2 linked regions of the Homo sapiens genome follow. The protein of the gene in region 2 interacts with the protein of the main gene of each other region in a pairwise test. Each region holds a gene or a part of one and is shown on either strand. Other genes may lie near its edges.

What was found.
Region 1: the proteins of LCE3A (region 2) and OIT3 interact in binary tests that used the Homo sapiens proteins (3 or more experiments, as listed by UniProt).

The regions. Positions count from the first base shown.
Region 1 is NC_000010.11:72,924,648-72,928,404, reverse strand, and holds part of OIT3 (oncoprotein-induced transcript 3 protein precursor), read right to left. Parts: intron 1-3,757.
Region 2 is NC_000001.11:152,622,218-152,625,204, forward strand, and holds LCE3A (late cornified envelope protein 3A), read right to left. Parts: upstream 887-2,987; coding exon 617-886; downstream 1-616. UniProt on the Homo sapiens protein: A structural component of the cornified envelope of the stratum corneum involved in innate cutaneous host defense.

The DNA of each region.
Region 1 (3,757 bases), on a different chromosome or scaffold from region 2:
TGATTTGGGGTTTGCTGTGACTAGACAATGCTAGTTCCGAGCACCGAATTCATGTACTGAAAGAAAGTAACAAGGGTATAATGGAATCAAAACTAGTGGCTTATCGAAAACTTGTTCAATGCTTGATTTTGGAATTTAGTATGTTTCTTTTTCCAGTGATTAACTTTCTAGCTATATTTTGCTTAGGCTTGTGTTAAATTATTTTGTATTCTCAGAGCATACGCCAACCAAAATTAAAGGGAAGTGAATCAGATGTGTTCAATATCGGGGAGAACCAACTTGATTTAAATTTAAGCCGAGGACAATGAAAAATCAAAGAAATGAATAATCAAACAATTAATAAATATAAGTAAAATGAGCTATGTTTATTTTAGGTTTGTGGACTAGCCCCAAATTATGATTATTATAAAGACTCATTCAATTATTTACTTGGCAAATATTTAATGACCCTTACCATATGCTAGGAATTGAGGAAGAAGAAAAAGGAAAAAGGATTTTTTAGTTCAAATGGAGAAAGGTGCCAGGAAAGGCTTCATGGAGGAAGTAAACCCTCCATGAATCTCGAAGAACCAGTAAGGATCAGACAGGAAGAAAAGGCGGGGAAGAAGATATCAGGCAGAGGAAACAGCATGCGCAAAGTCAGAAGGGTGTTCAGGAGTGACAGTTTGGGAATTGTCAATAATTCCCTTTGGCAGGAGCAGAAACTCGAGGGGGCTGAGGTCAGAGGGTAATGGCCTATGAGCCATGCCAAGAGCTGGAGGATCTTGCACACATCATTCTTGTACAGCACCACAGACGGGATGATTTGTCTGCTTACAAAGTAGGGCCACACTGCTGTGGTTTTCACATTTTTGCCTATGCTTTTTTCTTCTAGAGCATATATATTTTTTCTCTTCTGTATGTGCTAAGCACTGGCAAAATAAATAGCGCAGCTTCTTAGAACTGTCTAAAATAAAAGTAAATATGGTTGGGCGTGGTGGCTCACGTTTGTAATCCCAGCACTTTGGGAGGCCGAGGCAGGTGGATCACCTGAGGTCAGGAGTTCAAGATCAGCCTGGCCAACACGGCGAAACCCCATCTCTACTAAAAGTACAAAAATCAGTTGGGTGTGGTGGTATATGCCTGTGGTCCCAGCTACTTGGGAGGCTGAGGCACGAGACTTGCTTGAACCTGGGAGGCAGAGGTTGCAGGGGAGCTGAGATTGCGCCACTGCACTCCAGCCTGAGCTACAGAGTGAGACTCTGTCTCAAAAAGGAAATAAAATAAAATAAAATAAAATGGTCCTTCACTAAGAGACTGAATAATGCATATATAAATAAGTTTCACAAGCTCTACTAAGATTGTAGGTTACGTTTTTCTCAGTGAGTTATGATTATATTCTTATTTTTTCAAAAACTAAATATAAGGGGCAGGGGAAAACTTACAGTGAGAAAAATGTTCATTATCTTGATTATTGTGATGGCTTCATGGGTATACACATCAGAACTTGTCAAACTACATGCTTTAAATATGTCTATTTATTGTATGTGAATAGTACTCTACTAAAGTTATTTTTTAAAAAAAGTAAAAAGGAACAAAAATCTATCACTGCAAAAAAAGTAAACCTAGTCCCTGAAAAAAATAAATACAAAATGTTGCTTCTTCTTTTCATGTTAAGGTTTTTTAGAAATCACCTTAGCATGGCAAGAAATCCACATATCTGCAGATGCCCTTTGCTACGGGCCGTCCAGAGTAGCTCAGGATGACAAACTTTCCATATTATGAAAATGAGCTTAAGGAGGCTACAAGAATCTGAGGCTGGAAGCACACCTTCTGAGAAGCAGATTTACTGATCAAAGCTAATAAAGAACCATTAAGAGGTTTTCAGCAGGGATGTGACAAGATCATATTTTGTTTGAATGGATCACCCAGGGGCTCTGTGGAGCTGAGATGTGAAAGGTGAGGTTTTGGAGGCTGTGTTAAGAGGCTGCTTTGCTGTCCAGGTGAAAGATAATGAAGGTGGGAATTAAGACAATAGGAATGGAATAGAGAGGACAGGGTTGGGGCATTGCTATTTGTTAAAAAGCATCTCAGTTGATCCTATGTATATCAAGGGGTGAAATATCACTGCGCAAGAGATTGATAGCAGCAGGTGAAGGCTGGCTGTAGTGAAAAACAAGAGGAGTAAAAGCAGCATAGTAATGTCCAAGAGCCTGCAGGCCACCCAGCAGAGGGCAAGCCCCCGAGGGTGCTGAGCTGCTCGTACTGGACCATTCTCCCTTTGGTTAAGCTGCAGTTCCTGATCCTACCTGAGACTGTGTCCCACCTGACATGGAGAACAAGGAAGAAGCCCATGAGATACTGCTATGAATTTGGGTTTGAGTGTAATTTTCCTGGGAATGTAGGCAATGCCTATGAAAAGGACTAGGTCTCCATCAGTACCTCAGGACACCTACAGATCCCACCAAGGATCCTTAGGAAATACCATGGAACTCTCTTTTGTATAAAACAAGTGCAGGGGCCAAACATGGTGTCTCACACCTATAATCCCAGCACTTTGGGAGGCCAAGGCAGGAGGATCACTTGAGCCCAGGAGTTCAGGACCAGCCTGGGCAACAAAGTGAGACCTCGTCTCTAGAAAAAAAAGAATTAGCTGGGCATGGTCGTGCGCATATGGTCCTGGCTACTTGGGAGGATGAGACAGGAAGATCACTTGAGCCTGAGGATCAAGGTTGCAGTGAGCTGTGTTTGCACCACTGCACTCCAGCCTGGGTGACAGAGCAAGACCCTGCACTGCCCTCCACCCCTGAAAAAAACTAAGCACAAAGCCAAACTGCTATATCTATGTCTTTCTTCTAAAATCTACCAACTATTTCTTCTCTGTCCTTGACTACCAAACTTCTTAAAAGAGGAATTTATGTTTGCTGGCTCCTTGTTCCCTGCACTCTCAGCCACATGAACAGGATCTCACCTCCACCTTCACACATGCTCTGCCATCTCCTAGCAGGTTACTCAATCCTACAGTTTCATCTCTAAATCTGGTGATTCCCTGTCCTTCAGTTCTAGTCCAGACTGTGTTCCTGAGTCTAATTGATAATGCATTTCCACTGAATGCCCACTGAATTTCTCTTCCTAGACATCCTGCAGGTATCTAAAAAATTAAATTATTCAATATGTCATTTTGAATGACCAAATTCAGTATTTTAACCTCAAATCTGCTTTTCTATATACATCTTTTCACCTTGGTTAATGGCATCTAGTCAGTCACCTGGGTTAGACCACTTGGAGCCTTTTTTTTTTTTTTTTTTTTGAGATTTTAGGAGTTTCATTCTTGTCACCCAGGCTGGAGGGCAATGGTGCGATCTTGGCTCACTGCAACCTCCACCTCCCGGGTTCAAGCGATTCTCCTGCCTCAGCCTCTTGAGTAGCTGGGATTACAGGTGCCTGCCACCACACCCAGCTAATTTTTGTATTTTGAGTAGAGACAGGGTTTCACCATGTTGGCCAGGCTGGTCTCGAACTCCTGACCTCAGGTGATCCACCCGCCTTGGCTCCCAAAGTGCTGGGATTACAGGTGTGAACCACTGCACCTGGCCTAGGAGCCACTTTTGACTCTCCTCTCCCTCACTAGTTTTACCTCCAAAATGTCAATAAGTGGTTCCTGAACTAATAAATTGCTGACAGTGGTACCATGCAGTTTTAGTAAATGACTGGGTGTGCTGTGAACTTAGAGGCCGGATGTGAACTAGGGGTGATGAGACCATTCTTGCAGCAGCAT
Region 2 (2,987 bases):
GGGCTGCTGTGGTCCTGGGTCATGAAGACTACAGAGTATCAGAGTTGGAGGAACCAGAGGACCAAGGACCTGCTCCCATCTGGAGCTTCTCTTCTTCTCTGCCATCTAGGGCTGAGCTACCAAAGTGTTTTCGGAAGGATCTGAACGGGCCCAGTAAGCTCATTCCCTTTGTTTTCCAGAGCTCTGTGTTTATTTCCAACTCATGCTTCTGTCCTTGACCTTGTGAAAGACTGCTCACCTCATTCCCACACTAATATACAACCCCCCTAAAAGGGTTTTGTGAGTTGAGGGGTGTATGACCCACTTGTGTCTGTTCCTAAGATAGGCCTATGTACCCAATGTGGGGCAGCCCCTGTAAGGCAAAGACGGGAACGCACTGGACAGAGCTTGCAACGAGAAAGCACAGCTTTATTCTTCACAGCACAGGGATATTAAAGAAGGAGGGAAAACACTAAGACCAGCAGGATAAATCCCCTGGGGGAGTACTTGAAACTCATCAAGGAACATCTCAGTAGGAAAGAGGAGACAGGAGCAAAGAAGCACCAGGCTAGGGCTGGTTCCAGTCATTTTGGCACTTTCTTTTCTCAAATATTTTTACTTAATCTCGTGGCTCAGGTCAGCAGCAGCCCGCAGAACTGTGGCCACAGCTGGAGCTCCCGCCTTGCTGACCACTTCCCCTGTCACAGGAGTTGGAGCTCTGGCAACGGCAACGGTGAGACCTGCGGCATCTGTGGTGACTCAGGCAGCAGCTGCGCTCGGAGCTGGGCCCACAGCCCCCAGAGCTTGGGGCACAGCTGGAGGAAGCTGGAGGCAGACACTGTGCTGGGCTCTTTGCAGGGCACTTGGGCGGAGGCTGGCACTGCTGCTGGTTCTGCTGGCAGGACATCTAGGCAGGAGGTCAGGGAGCCTGGGCAAAATAAAAGCAAAGCAAAATACGTGTCAATGCAGGTTTCAGGCCAGGGCCTCCTCATGCTTTGGTTTAATTGTGGATCCCTTCCCCTAAACTCAGTCTGCCCTCCAGCTAAGACCTGGGGAAGGGGAATGCAAACGGATCTGAAGTTAAACCGGCCTGATACTGCCCCTTCCTCCGGCCCTCTCCCCTGCCTGGGAGGCAGCTGACACTCCTGGGTGGGCCTCTGGGGCTCCTGCGCACGCCCTGCGGGGCCTGTCACACCTCCGGACCCGATGCGAACAGCTCCCCCTGCAGGCGTCCCGTGAACACAACGCCCATGACCCTCCAGGGTGGCGTCTCTCTGGACGCCTGTGAGCGCAGGGTGTGAGGAGGCAACGCATCTCTGCGCACATGAGGAAAAGGGGGTTCAGAGGTCGCAGCATCGCGGAGCCCCTGAAGTGGCTCGCAGACTTGTCTGTCTTCCTCACTATCCCGCCCATCTCCCATCCCAGTCCCAGCCGGCCACCCACCACAGCCTCTCTGCCGCCTCCACCGTGTCTGCCTCCTCCCCTCTCCTTGTTGAAGCACAGACGTGTTTGCGCAGCCCTTTCAGCCCAGGTCCTCTCGCCAGCTGGACGCTCACCTGGTTTGGTGGAGGCAGGAGAAGGTTCTTCCTGAGGTGATTGTGGACTGAGGAACCCAGGGCCTCAGCCCTTTTATCCTGGGTATTATGATGCACAGCCCAACTATGTGTCCTCCTTTGCTCCCCAAAGGGAGGGGAAGCACCACACACTCCCAAGGACCAGGCTTTCAGCATATTCTTAAGGCGCATATTTTGAGGAATGACAAAAGGGAAGCAGGAAATCTCGATGACGGTCCAATTATCCACCGTTCAGGCCCTCTGGCTGCTGTTCCACTTTTTTTTCTTCATTCAGCTCACATGCTCTGAAGCCAGGGTACGTCCTTTGTGGGGCCTGGTAATATGGGGACAAACAGAACACATTTCTCCCCTTGACTAGCTCACAGCTTTTCAGAAGGCCAGATGGACAACTGAGCAATTAAATCACATCCTATGTGCTAAGCGACGCAGCACAAGTGTGCACAAACATGGCAGGCTGGGGTCACTGCCTTTGGGTGTCAGTCCCCATTGCTTTGTGGATTCCTTTACATAGGTGATGGAATCAGCCCCTGTGTCCTGAGATGTTGGCTGCACTGAGCTCACTGGACCTGGGTTGAGTAAGGGGTGGAAGAATGGAGCTGGGGCCATGGCTTGAGAGGTAGTGTCTTCAGGGAATATCATGGCATCTTAAAGGTGGCATTGGGCACTGTGGGGGCAGAGGGGTAGAGTGGAGGGAGGTGCAGATGGTATAAAAATGTGACCTCCATCTGTGGGATCAACAGAAATCACACTTAATGGGAAAAAAGGGGCATCCGTTTTTGGCTGTCTGTGAAATGTGCAAGGCTGAATTTAATCCTATATATTATGTTAGTAATTCATTAAAATTTCTTTGAATTTGTTGATAATGATGAGGTTGATGGGGTTGTATGCATTTCACTTAATGAATACCTGTGATAATGCTTGAAGTTTGTATATGATGAATTCATAAAAATGGAATATTATTTACTATTTGGTTTTAGTTATATCAGTGATAAATTTATCAGTGAATTCATCTCTAATAATACAATACAATATGCCATAGCCTCTAAATAAAAACCACTGTAATGAATTTTAAAATAATCTTTATTATACTATATATTCTTCCAAGGAAAATAATCACAATTGAGACAATATTAAGTTTCTAATAATCATGAATTTAAATTATATTGTAATTTTAAGCAAAATGTTATTTTGATCAGAGTATATGAAAGCCTGAAGATGCTTGTTCTTTGGTACAAAATACACTGCTAGAGGATATTAGTTCCTTCTTCCCCTTTGCCTATCACTCCACTTTGAACAAACTGCAATACCATGCATTCTTTTAAGAGTTCTATGAGGTCAGGAGTTCAAGACCAGCCTGTTCAACACGGCAAAACCCCGTCTCTACTAAAAATACAAAAATTAGCTGGGTGTGGTGGTGGGCATCTGTAATCCTAG